3 linked regions of the Homo sapiens genome follow. The protein of the gene in region 3 purifies or fractionates together with the protein of the main gene of each other region. This does not show direct contact. Each region holds a gene or a part of one and is shown on either strand. Other genes may lie near its edges. The genes, in order: PPFIA1, NPTN and CTNNAL1.

Region 1 (3,652 bases), on a different chromosome or scaffold from region 3:
AAAATAAATATAAATTAAACTGAAATATATAAAACAATGACACAAAAGGTAGGAGGGAGTTAAATCCAGTTCAAGTATCTAAGGACTTGACCCTGGGAGACACAATGAGACTGTGCCTGGAAAAAAAAAAATATATATATATATATATATATATCTCAATCAAACAAAAAAAAAGCAAAAAAAAAAAAGTAGAAATTAATGCAATAGAAAACAAATGTAAGTAGAAAAAAATGTAAAGCCGAAAGTTGGTCCCTTAAAAGAACTTACAAAATTGACAAACCCCCAACAAGACTGATTAAGAGATAATATATGAATTACTGATATCAAGAATTATTAAAAGGGAACATCACTACAGATCTTGCAGATAATAAGGATTACAAACCACTTTAAACTTACAAATTGGAAAGTCTGGGTGGCCTGAACAAATCTCTAGCGGGGAAAAATGCTTTATCTAAATAGACACATGAAGAAATATTCAAAATCCTACATCTACCTATAAAATTAATTCTAAAATTTTTCCTTCTCACAAGGAAAACCCTGTACCAGCTGGTTTTGCCAAAGAATTATTTCAAACATTTAAGGAAGAAAACACAAATTTCGTAGGAACTCTTCTAGGGAGTAGAAAAAGAAGGAATACATTCCACCTTGTTTTAAGAAACCAGCATAACCTTGATACCAAATCCCAACAAGGGTACTGAAGGAAACTGAAATTATAAGTCAATCTTTCTCGTGAATATAAATGCAATAATCCTAAACAAAATACTACCAAATATAATCCAGTAAAAGGAGAATACATCAAGATCAGGTTGGAATTATTCTACAATTGTAAATTTTTTTTAAAAGGGAGGTGCTCTTTCTCAGGAGCTCCTGAAGTTGCTTCCCCAGGCTACAAACAATATGCAATTAAAAAAAAAAAAAAAAGCAAGGCGCAGTGGCGTGCGTCTATAATTCCAACTACTTGAGAGGCTGAGGTGGGAAGATCACTTTAGCCCAGGAGTTCAAGGCTACAGCGAGCTATGATGGTGCCACTGCACTCCGGGCTGGGTAATGGAGCAAGACCCCATCTCAAAAATAAACAAACAAAAACAGTTAAATTCCCACATAACAGAAAAATCACATGACTGTCTCAAAAGATGCAGAAAATCCATGTTAAGAAATTTAATACCTGCTCATGGTTTTTAAAAAACTCTTGGCAAACTAAGAAGAGGAGAATTTTTACATTTTGATAAAGAATATCTACAGGGCCAGGTGTGGTGGCTCACAGTGGTAATCCCAGCACTTTGGGAGACCAAGGTGAGAGGATCGCTTGACACCAGGAGTTGGAGACTAGTCTGGGCAACCGAGTGAGTACCCTTTTCTTAAATTACCAGATCTCAAGACAGACTATATCTATGGGAATTTAGACATTGTGCTATTTGTGCAAAGATGACAAAAAGATCAAAGGAGCAGAAGAGAGTCCAGAAACAGACCCACACACTTACAGTCACTGGACTGAGATGACACTGCATGTAGTACACTGGGGAAAGAATAGTCTTTTAAGAAATTATGCAAGGTCAACTAGATATCCATTTAAAAAAAGAAAGAGAGACTCTTGGCCCCATCGCATACCATAAACAAAGTCAATTTCAGATGGAAGATTAAAAAATAGTTTTTAGAAGACAATGTAGAATATCTCATGAACTTGACCAAGCAAATTTCTTAAACAGGACACAAAGAGCATTAAACATTACTGAAAAGATGGATCAACTGGGCTACATTAAAAATTTTACACTTCTATGTATCAAAAGATACAACTGAGAGAGTGAAAAGGCAAACACAAGAGTCTAAAAACAATCTGTCATGCACATATGTACTCAGAATATAGAGAAAACTCCTTCAAATCAGTAAAAAACAAAACAGACAACCCAATCAACAGATGGGCAAAAGATAACCGTTTCACAAAAGACATCCAGGTGGCCAGTGAACACAGGTAGAGATGCTTTACCTCTGCATGTTCCTGGCCATCAGGGAGCAGCAAATTCAGACCATACTGAGCCACCTACCAGCTAACAGCCACCAGAACAGCTAAAATGTAAAGACCCAACAATACCAAGTGCTGAAGAGCATAGGAGCAACTGACTTCTCATACATTGCTGGGGTAGTACAAACTGTCACAACCACCACTTTTGGCACTCTCTACTGAGGCTGAACAAATGCACACACCATCATTTGCATTCCACTTCTTTGTAGAAATCCAACAGAAGTGTACACATATCCTCCGGCCTGGGCAACATGGTAAAACCCCACCTCTACAAAAAATACAAAAATTAGCGGAGGGTGGTGATGCGTGCCTGTATTCCCAGCTACTTGGGAGGCTGAGGCAGGAGAATCGCTTCAACCTGGGAGGTGGAGGCTACAGTGAGCCGAGATCATGCCACTGCACTCCAGCCTGGGCAACAGAGTGAGACCCTATCTCAAAAAAAAAAAAGTTTATAGACATCTGCACCAAAAAACAAACAATATTAGGGGAGCACGTGTAAAAACTGGAAACAACCCCAAATGTCTGTGAGCAGTAGAAAGAATAAGTTCTGTCTGTTCGTGCACGGGATGACCAGAGAGCAGGTGAGAATGAGCAAGCTGCATCTCACAAACATGATGCTGACGACAGAATGAAGAAGCAAAACATACAGATTATTTTACTTCACTTAAACAAAGTCAAGAACAGGCAAAAGTAATCAATGGTGAAAGGTCAAGACCTTGGTTAGCTCTGGGGGACAACTACTGGGAATAGTTAGGAGGGGACTTCTAGGAAGCCTGATAATGTTCCATTTCTTGATCTGGGTGGTGGTATGCAAGTGTGTTAACTTTGTGAAAAGTCCACTGAGATGTATACTTACGATTTGTGAATTTTTCTGCTGTATGCTATAGTTATGTATATTTTTAAGTACACTCTAACTTGCCTCCACAATGTGCCAGGAGCACAAATGCACTTCCTGGACTCATTATCTGGTCACACTACCAGCCACCAAAGATGAACCAGATGCCAGGAAAGGGAAGGGTCCAAAACAAGTTTACTTAATAGTTTCCATTTTTGAAAGGCTGGAATCAGGTGCTCAGGTGGTAACGTGAACCGTTGGCATCATCATGTTATCCACTGAACTAGGCATTCCCAGGCTGCTACACTGAGCAGTGCCAGAAACAAATCACTGAGCAACCATGTCACCAGTGTGTGTGACAACCTCCACAGCCTGCGACTAACTGTACAAAACTCCTGTCACTTCCCTGACATGTCTTGTGTGCCCATTCTTTCCAAAACCTACCTTATTAAGTATATTAGTATTTGATATACACTTCAATACGTGTACCTTAAATTACAAATACAATAAAATCCTGGTAAAACATAAATTGGCTACTTCTTTTAAAATTGTAGTAATAAAATTCAACATAAATAAACTTGGTAATTTATAAGATTGAAATAAGAAAAATCTTAATGATTCTTTAATCCAACAAAAAAGGAACATAGAGCGCTAACGTCAAATTATTGTTGCTAAAAAGGAAACCCACGTTTGGCTTATCAATCTTTCAGGAGAACTGACTACAGCCAAGAAACACATTAAGGCTAGTACTTATTCATTTACTAATTTATCACTGCAGACCCATCATGCGAGTATAA
Region 2 (3,652 bases), on a different chromosome or scaffold from region 3:
CAAGGTTTTCTTTTCCTCTTTCCAGAAGCAGGTTCTTTGATTCAACAGTGCCAACTGCAGCAGCCTCTCCTACCACTGCCCTACAAAGGACTCTTTTTTTACCCATAGGATCTTCAAGTGGCTACAAAGAACAGACACTAATTTGCTATTTTCCATCTAAGTATATAGACTCAAGGCCCATGTCTTACTACTTTATGTTATTACCAAATTCCTCATCAAAGTAAGATTTTACTATTCTTACTTTCTCTAGATCAATCAGCTCTTTAAGCTGGAACTGGCTATAGATCTCTCATTGTGTCCTCAAAGAGAAGGTGAAAAACCCAGAGGATCTTTCCAAAAGTGAATGTCCCCTCAATTATAACCAGGTTTGATGTGGGGCCAGAACTCTTCTTGGCCAGGAACGTTGGTTCTGTGGTGGCTTCTCCCTCTCTCTGCTTCTCAACATAAGGTAGCAAGTCACTTTCAAGAAAGAGAGAGAAGTGGCCACAAAAGTCCCGGTGTCATATGTCTCACGCATACCTGCTACAAGGAGAGGATTCTGAGCCAGCTGGTCAGCTCACCCCATCACTATGAGAAACCAGGTTGGAAGTTAGTTTCCTCTTTTTTCAAGACACAAAGAAAAGGCCAGTGTGAGTGGTCCCCACACTATGTCTGGAGTTCCCATGCTCTGGGATAAGGTACACTGTGCCAACAGCTACTCATCAGAGTCAAACCGTGAACAGGAATCAACTGCAACTCTGACTTCCAAACAGTGTGATGGGCTAAAAAAATAATAATTTGCAGCTTAGTGTCACCTGGCTCCTAACAGCAAAACATAAGAAGGAAGTCCCAGGCTGCTGCTTTTAAAGAGGAGACTAATTAGCAGGCCCAGTGAGGAGTACACTGCTGCAGTAGAGGGCTGTTATCAGAGAAGCACATGCCACGGTTTTAGAAAAGAAAAAGAGCTGGAACTATGAAAATATCCAAGCTTACATGCCACCCAACAACCAAAACACACCACCACACTGCACCCATGGCAACATTCCCATCACAACAAGATGACACCAAGTCACAGTTAAAGGAAGAGGCTGGGCAGACACAAACTTAAAACCATAGAGGTGAAGGCAGCTACTTAGAGAGCTTCAAACAGAAGAACAGAAGAAATAAAAAGTAGTTAGACTGGGGAGAGAAACAAAAATAGAAAGGCACCAGAGAAGAAATCAGCAAAAGTATAGCAGGAAACCTACTACAAAATCAAAGGGGAGGGAAAACCATTTCAACACTACCCTCCTTGGACTGCCTGGTTTTATGAGTTTTAATTTAAGCTTCCCAGTTCTCCCTCCCCAACTCTTCCCAACACAGATGATTTTGGACAGTCACGGATTTCCTCAAGTTCTTTGTTCCTGAGAAGAAAGACACAGAGAAGGGTTGGGGGATAAGGGAGGCAGAGAGAACGGCAAAGAAAAGAAGAAAAAAAGTTGCCACAGATGTTTTCATACACTACAACCAGAAGGGTCATGGGATTGAAAAAAAAACGAAGACAAGGGGTGGGGTGAGTGATCATACTGGGGAAGAGGGAAAGGATGCAGAAGGGAAGGGTCATTGGGCCACCTCTAATGACTACAGTACTACTACTGTAGGGTGCTGGACTCACTCTGAAGGACGCTTATGGTGGCCTGGGCTCGAATCCATGTTATGGAGGGGTTTTGCCTCAAGTCATTCCTCTTGGGGTCGTTGCTGGCCCTGCACTCGTAAGTCCCAGAGTCCTCCAAGGTGAGCCGGGTTATTCTCAGCACACTCACGCCGTTTGACCCGTAGGCGGTGTTTACGGTGACACGGCGCTTCCGAGCACCGTCCCACAGCTGTCTGAAAGACTCTGCCCGGTTGACTTCTGCGTACCACCACTGGATCTCTGGCGTGGGGCTCCCGACCACGTCACAGTACAGCTCAAAGGCGTCCCCCGTGAGCTTAGTTTCTGACATGGGCGACTTGACAAACCCAGCTAGAGGGAGGGGGAGCAGGAATGCAGTGACAGGCCAATCAGAAAAAAAAAAAAGAATCAACAGGTGTTAATAGTAATTTAAAGAAAAGAAAAGAAAAAAGCAAATGAGTTGCAAAGAACAAAAAAGGATTCATTTTTAAACTATAAAGAGACAGTACAGCAATTCATACAAGCTTTTAGAAGAAGAACCACACCCTGGGAAGCTTATGAAGCAAAGGCAGGCTAATTACAAGCTGGGGCAGCCCAGGTGCTGGCCAGGCAGAAGCAAGCCCACTGGAAAGCATTTTAGCAATGGGCCCAGCTGGTAGGAATGAGAAAGCCTCAGGTCTTGGGAAGAGCCTCTTTCCTTAGAACACAAACCATTTATTACCTTTTTAAACTCAGGCAAGTGATGAAAGATAACCAGAAGAGGCAGTAGTTTTATATGCCAAATCAGGATCTCTCTTTTGGATGGGCAAACGCTTTGTTAGAAATGCAGTGTCTTTTGCAAGCCTCAACAAGAAGTATTAAATGACCTACTGGTGCCTTCTCTTGGGATTCAGAGTTCAAATTTCAACTGAAAGAGTAGCAAATTTCTCTCTCACACAGGATTCTATCCTGGGTTCGATTAGACTTTCTCCACCTCCTATTCTTCCCTGGGCCTATGGCAAACAAACAACCCAGTTGTTTAGCGTTAGGCAGCCTCTTCCTGAATGCAGACCCTCAGGAGAACAAGACAGTCTGTACTTCACACCACAGTGAGATATTAATACTTTGTGGGTCAGCTCAGAAGTGGGACCAACAATACCAGCAACCCAACTCACTGCCAGCTAATGGAGGGACTGTGCCCTCCATAACCCCATAGATCCATTACCTAGAAAAATCTGAAAAGCTATGGTATTTGACAGGCTCCATACAGTTGAATTGCCTGGCTTCTAGAAGCCAGCTCAGAAGAATGAGAAATGTACCCTGATGAATTAAACTAAACACTAGGGTGAAAGCCAGGCCTCAACCAACACTCTTAGGAACTGCCCAGGAACTAAAGTTGATGCCTACCTCTAATTGCCCATAATTTGCTTGAGGTTACACTTCCATAAGACAAGGTGGAAATGGCAGAAAGAGTTAAAAAAAAAAAAAATCCAGGCTTAGTTTAAAAACTTGGAGTTAGGTCCATAGGAAACAAAATCAGAGTGCAAGCATACTCTCTCTTACCCTTCCACCCCACCTAGGGTTCATTCAGCATTTCTACTGATTCAGACAGTATCCGAAGGTATAAAGAGAGACACTAAAAGAGGGCATTCTGATTGGCTTGGAAACGTCCCCTGGGAGGCCTGCTGCATAAGCCAAGCCAGCCCCTGTGCAGTAAGCAGGGAGTGAGGTCAGGATCTGCCAACATCAAATTAAGAACATTCCAGAGGAAAGGATGAAATAAATGGAACTGTTTTCCTACAGTCCAGAAGCCAAGGATGTTAACAGGGCTAGCTGAAAATGGAGGTTACTAAGTGGAAAAATTCCTGTTTACATCCATAGCAGTATTTGCCTTTGGTGATAACCCCACACCATGGACTAAGAACATTAATGGAGGTACTATACTTACTCAAGTAGAGGCCAAGACCTCCAAATTCATACTAGTCTTTCAATTCCTGACATTTTCAGACTCTGGGGAGCACAGGAATGCAGTGATTAACAGGC
Region 3 (3,652 bases):
TCTTACTTCAGGAACAAGAAACGGTTTCACCTTGACGATTGTAGGGATTATCATACGAAGCTTTCTAACCAGAAAATAATAGCACACTCTTAAGAACTGTGACAAATTTTGCCCTCACCCAGTTTGAAAAACATCATAATTTTTGTTTCCAGTGGTAATGCAAACTACACAATCTAAAAGCCTCCTGCCCTACAAGACAGTAAGAGAAATCCCATGAGTCAAAAACCAAAGAATACCCTAAAACCCGAGCAGTAAGCAGGTGCCAAGGCTTGGGCTGGGGCGAGGCCGGGGAGAAGTCAGGGGTCACTGCCAATCTCCACAAGCTGAACGGCCTTGGGTTTTCACCCTTGGGTTTTCACGGATCCTCAGAGAGAGAAAAAAGACAGGGCTTTAGGCCCCAAGGGATGACATCTTCAATATAATGGGGGCCCGGAAAGAACTGTCAATAGGCAAAAAGAAACAATAAGGAAGTTTGTCTGTCAGTCAGCCTGGACTTTGGGTGGGGAAAGTAAACAAAACAAAAGCCTCCCTCCTGAGAATTCAAACCACAGGCTGGCCCTCATTTAGGCTACAGTTTGAATTTATATAAACTTCTTATGATGCCCAGCATAAACCATTCTATTAATTGAACTCCCAACCCTCTAGAAAAATTATCTTCTTCACTGTTGCTATCAAAACTTTTGATTTCTGTAATGGTAATTATCTACTAATAAAACAATCCAAGTATTCTTGTATTATAATACAAGGCTACAATATTCTTCAAACCTCCATACTGTTAAAAAGATTTTTAAAATAATAAACCTTTAACCAACTTATAGTGTTCAAGATCATTTTTTAAAGTCCTAAATATACCTGTGTGCCTAATGGATTGATTTTCTTACAAAAGCCCTCCTGTCAATTCTATTACATACACACAATAATGTGTCAGCTCATAGGCTAAGGATCTTGAGTAAAAAGTACTGGAATCTTAATGGAGAGGCCACAGGGTGAAGTATAAGTCAAGGTTTGGAAAGATCAGTCTGGCAGGCACAGTGGCTCACACCTGTAATCCTAGCACTTTAGGAGGCCGAGGCGGGTGGATCACCTGAGGTCAGGAGTTCAAGACAAGCCTGGCCAACATGGCGAAACTCGGTCTCTACTAAAAAAATACAAAAATTAGCCAGGTGTGGTGGCAGGGGCCTGTAATCCCAGCTACTCAGGAGGCTGAGGCAGAGAATCGCTTGGACCTGGGAAGCGGAGGTTGCAGTCAGCTGAGATGGCGCCACTGCACTTCAGCCTGGGTGACAGAGTGAGACTTGGTCTCAAAAAAAAAAAAGAAAGATCAGTCTAGTAGGAGTACATAAAATAGAATGGAAAGGAAAGACTTAGAGCCAGGCTATTGTATCAATTGTGGGTGTGAAATAGTAGGGACCTTACTAGTATAGTAGCCATAGGAACATTAAGAAGATGATTTGGGAAACATTAAGAAAACACAAAATTAGTACCTGACCAATGATAAGAAGGAAAGAACGAGTAAAAAAATGGCCTCAAAGTTGTAAACCTAAGTTGCTTAAAGAAAATCGAAGGGCATTGGAAGAGAGATGATAATTTTACTGTCAGACAACAGGAGTTTGAAATAACACAGGAATACACCAAAGATAAGTCGCAAGACATGGACTGGTAATGCAGACTTGGATGTCTTGTGTATAATGACAATAGCTGAAGCTCTACAGATAGAGGAATTCTGTGGTAGCCAGCCTTCAAGATCGCTCCCCATGATCCCCACCTACTGTTATTGACAACCTTGTGCTGTCTGTCCCCTCCCACATCATACCAGGGTTGGTATGGTGGAAGTGGTGGTATGTCACTCCCAAGCTTAGGTTCTAAAATAACTGAGGCAGCTGTCTGGGTTGCTCTCTCTCTCTGAGAGAAGCCAGTTGCCATGTCATAAGCAGCCCTTACTACACAGATAACTACGTGGAGAGGAAGTGAGGCCTCCAGCCAACAGCCAGCAAGGAAGTGAAGCCTGCCAACAACCATGAGAGGGAGGCTGGAAGCAGACCTGCAGTGCACTCAAGCTTCCAGGTAACAGAGGCCTGGTCAACACACTGACCGCTACCTCATGAGACACACTGACCCTGAGCCACCCAGTGAAGCCACTCCCTGATTGGTGCCCTCTCAAAAACTGACATAGTAAATGTTTGTGGTTTTAAGTTGCTAAGTTTGGGTTAATTTGTTACACAGAAATAGGTAGCTAATACAGAGTTTTCATAGCAAAGAACAGAGAACAAAAGTGCTTAGAATTAACCTTAAGGCATACAGAAAGGGCAGGAGGAAAAGTATCAGTTTGCATCCTATCATTAATAGCTAAAAGGATAAAAATGTTTCCTCTGATCCTCTGGAAAATGTTAATTTTTTTCTACACCTCTCAACCACAAAGGATACGACATATAAGCCTGCACATATGGCATTATTCAACCTTTCCTTTTTCTGACTAGACCCCAGGCATTTAACTCATAAGTACGTGGGACAGTAACATTTGGTTGGCTCCACCAACATGGGCAAATGCTTTCTTAACATTATAAAGTTGTTCAAAGTGTAAACTGTTCAGAAATCAGTTCCCTAAAAAAGTAACAAAGCTGTCTTACAGCTTCACAGGTATCATTTTTAATTTATTATATGTCATTACTAGTGCTGTGCCTTAATAGGAAAACCCAAGGTCAATCAAACACAAATATTTGTTGAACTTCCATATAAAACATAAATATAAACCTTGCCTGGTAGCCAAGTAAAAAGCAACAATACAATGTAAGAGTTCAACACAGGGAAGTAAGAATAAAAATTAATTATAATAATAACAACTAATATTTATTGAGCACTTACTATGTGTGAAATGATAGATGCATTATATCAAAACACCTCTATAAACCCTAACAGTCTCATTTTATAGATGAGAACACTGAGGTTTAGAAATGTTTAATAGATTGCCCAATATACCCTGCTTGCAAGTAGAAGCACTAGGATTAAAGTCTAGGCAATCTGACCCTAAGACTTTAGTGTTTTTTTTTTTGAGACAGGGTCTCTCTCTGTCATCTCCCAGGCTGGAGTGCAGTGGCACCATCACTGCTCACTGCAACCTCAACCTCCTTGGGCTCAAAAAATCCTCCCATCTCAGCCTCCCAAGTAGCTGGGACTGGAGGCACGCACCACCACACCTGGCTATTTTTTTTTCTTATGTTTTGTAGAGACAGGGACTCATTATGTTGCCCAGGTTGGTCTCAAACACAGCTCAAGCGATCCACCCGCCTTGGCCTCCAAGTGTTGGGATTACAGGTGTGAGCAACTGCACCCAGCCAGCTCCAGTTTTTTATCTACTACTTTATATTAGTTCCCTCAAATGAACACTGTTGACAAACAAAGAAAATGATTCGTAGGGGTTGAGTGGGCTAGAAACATTACAGGAGTGATTTAATGAAGTCTTAAATTTGTATGTGTTAAGAGAAAAAAAGGCTTCTATATTTTACAACTCCAGAAGGCATCATTCTCATACTCTTACCTGAGTGACACTAGGAGGAAGATGACATGTGGAGCCCATGAAACCTGACAGCTTCCAAAATACTCCGTTTATGGAGCTGCCTGGGCGTATGGTACTCATGTCAGTGTACCACGTCCT

Evidence for each region.
Region 1: the proteins of CTNNAL1 (region 3) and PPFIA1 purify together in Homo sapiens (tandem affinity purification; one study listed by IntAct). This does not show direct contact.
Region 2: the proteins of CTNNAL1 (region 3) and NPTN purify together in Homo sapiens (co-immunoprecipitation; one large-scale study listed by IntAct). This does not show direct contact.

Annotation. Positions count from the first base shown.
Region 1 is NC_000011.10:70,273,540-70,277,191, reverse strand, and holds part of PPFIA1 (liprin-alpha-1), read right to left. Parts: intron 1-3,652. UniProt on the Homo sapiens protein: May regulate the disassembly of focal adhesions. May localize receptor-like tyrosine phosphatases type 2A at specific sites on the plasma membrane, possibly regulating their interaction with the extracellular environment and their association with substrates.
Region 2 is NC_000015.10:73,595,389-73,599,040, forward strand, and holds part of NPTN (neuroplastin isoform b precursor), read right to left. Parts: intron 1,982-3,652; coding exon 1,634-1,981; intron 1-1,633. UniProt on the Homo sapiens protein: Probable homophilic and heterophilic cell adhesion molecule involved in long term potentiation at hippocampal excitatory synapses through activation of p38MAPK. May also regulate neurite outgrowth by activating the FGFR1 signaling pathway.
Region 3 is NC_000009.12:108,992,928-108,996,579, forward strand, and holds part of CTNNAL1 (alpha-catulin), read right to left. Parts: intron 2,065-3,652; exon of another isoform or gene 1,981-2,064; intron 1-1,980. UniProt on the Homo sapiens protein: May modulate the Rho pathway signaling by providing a scaffold for the Lbc Rho guanine nucleotide exchange factor (ARHGEF1).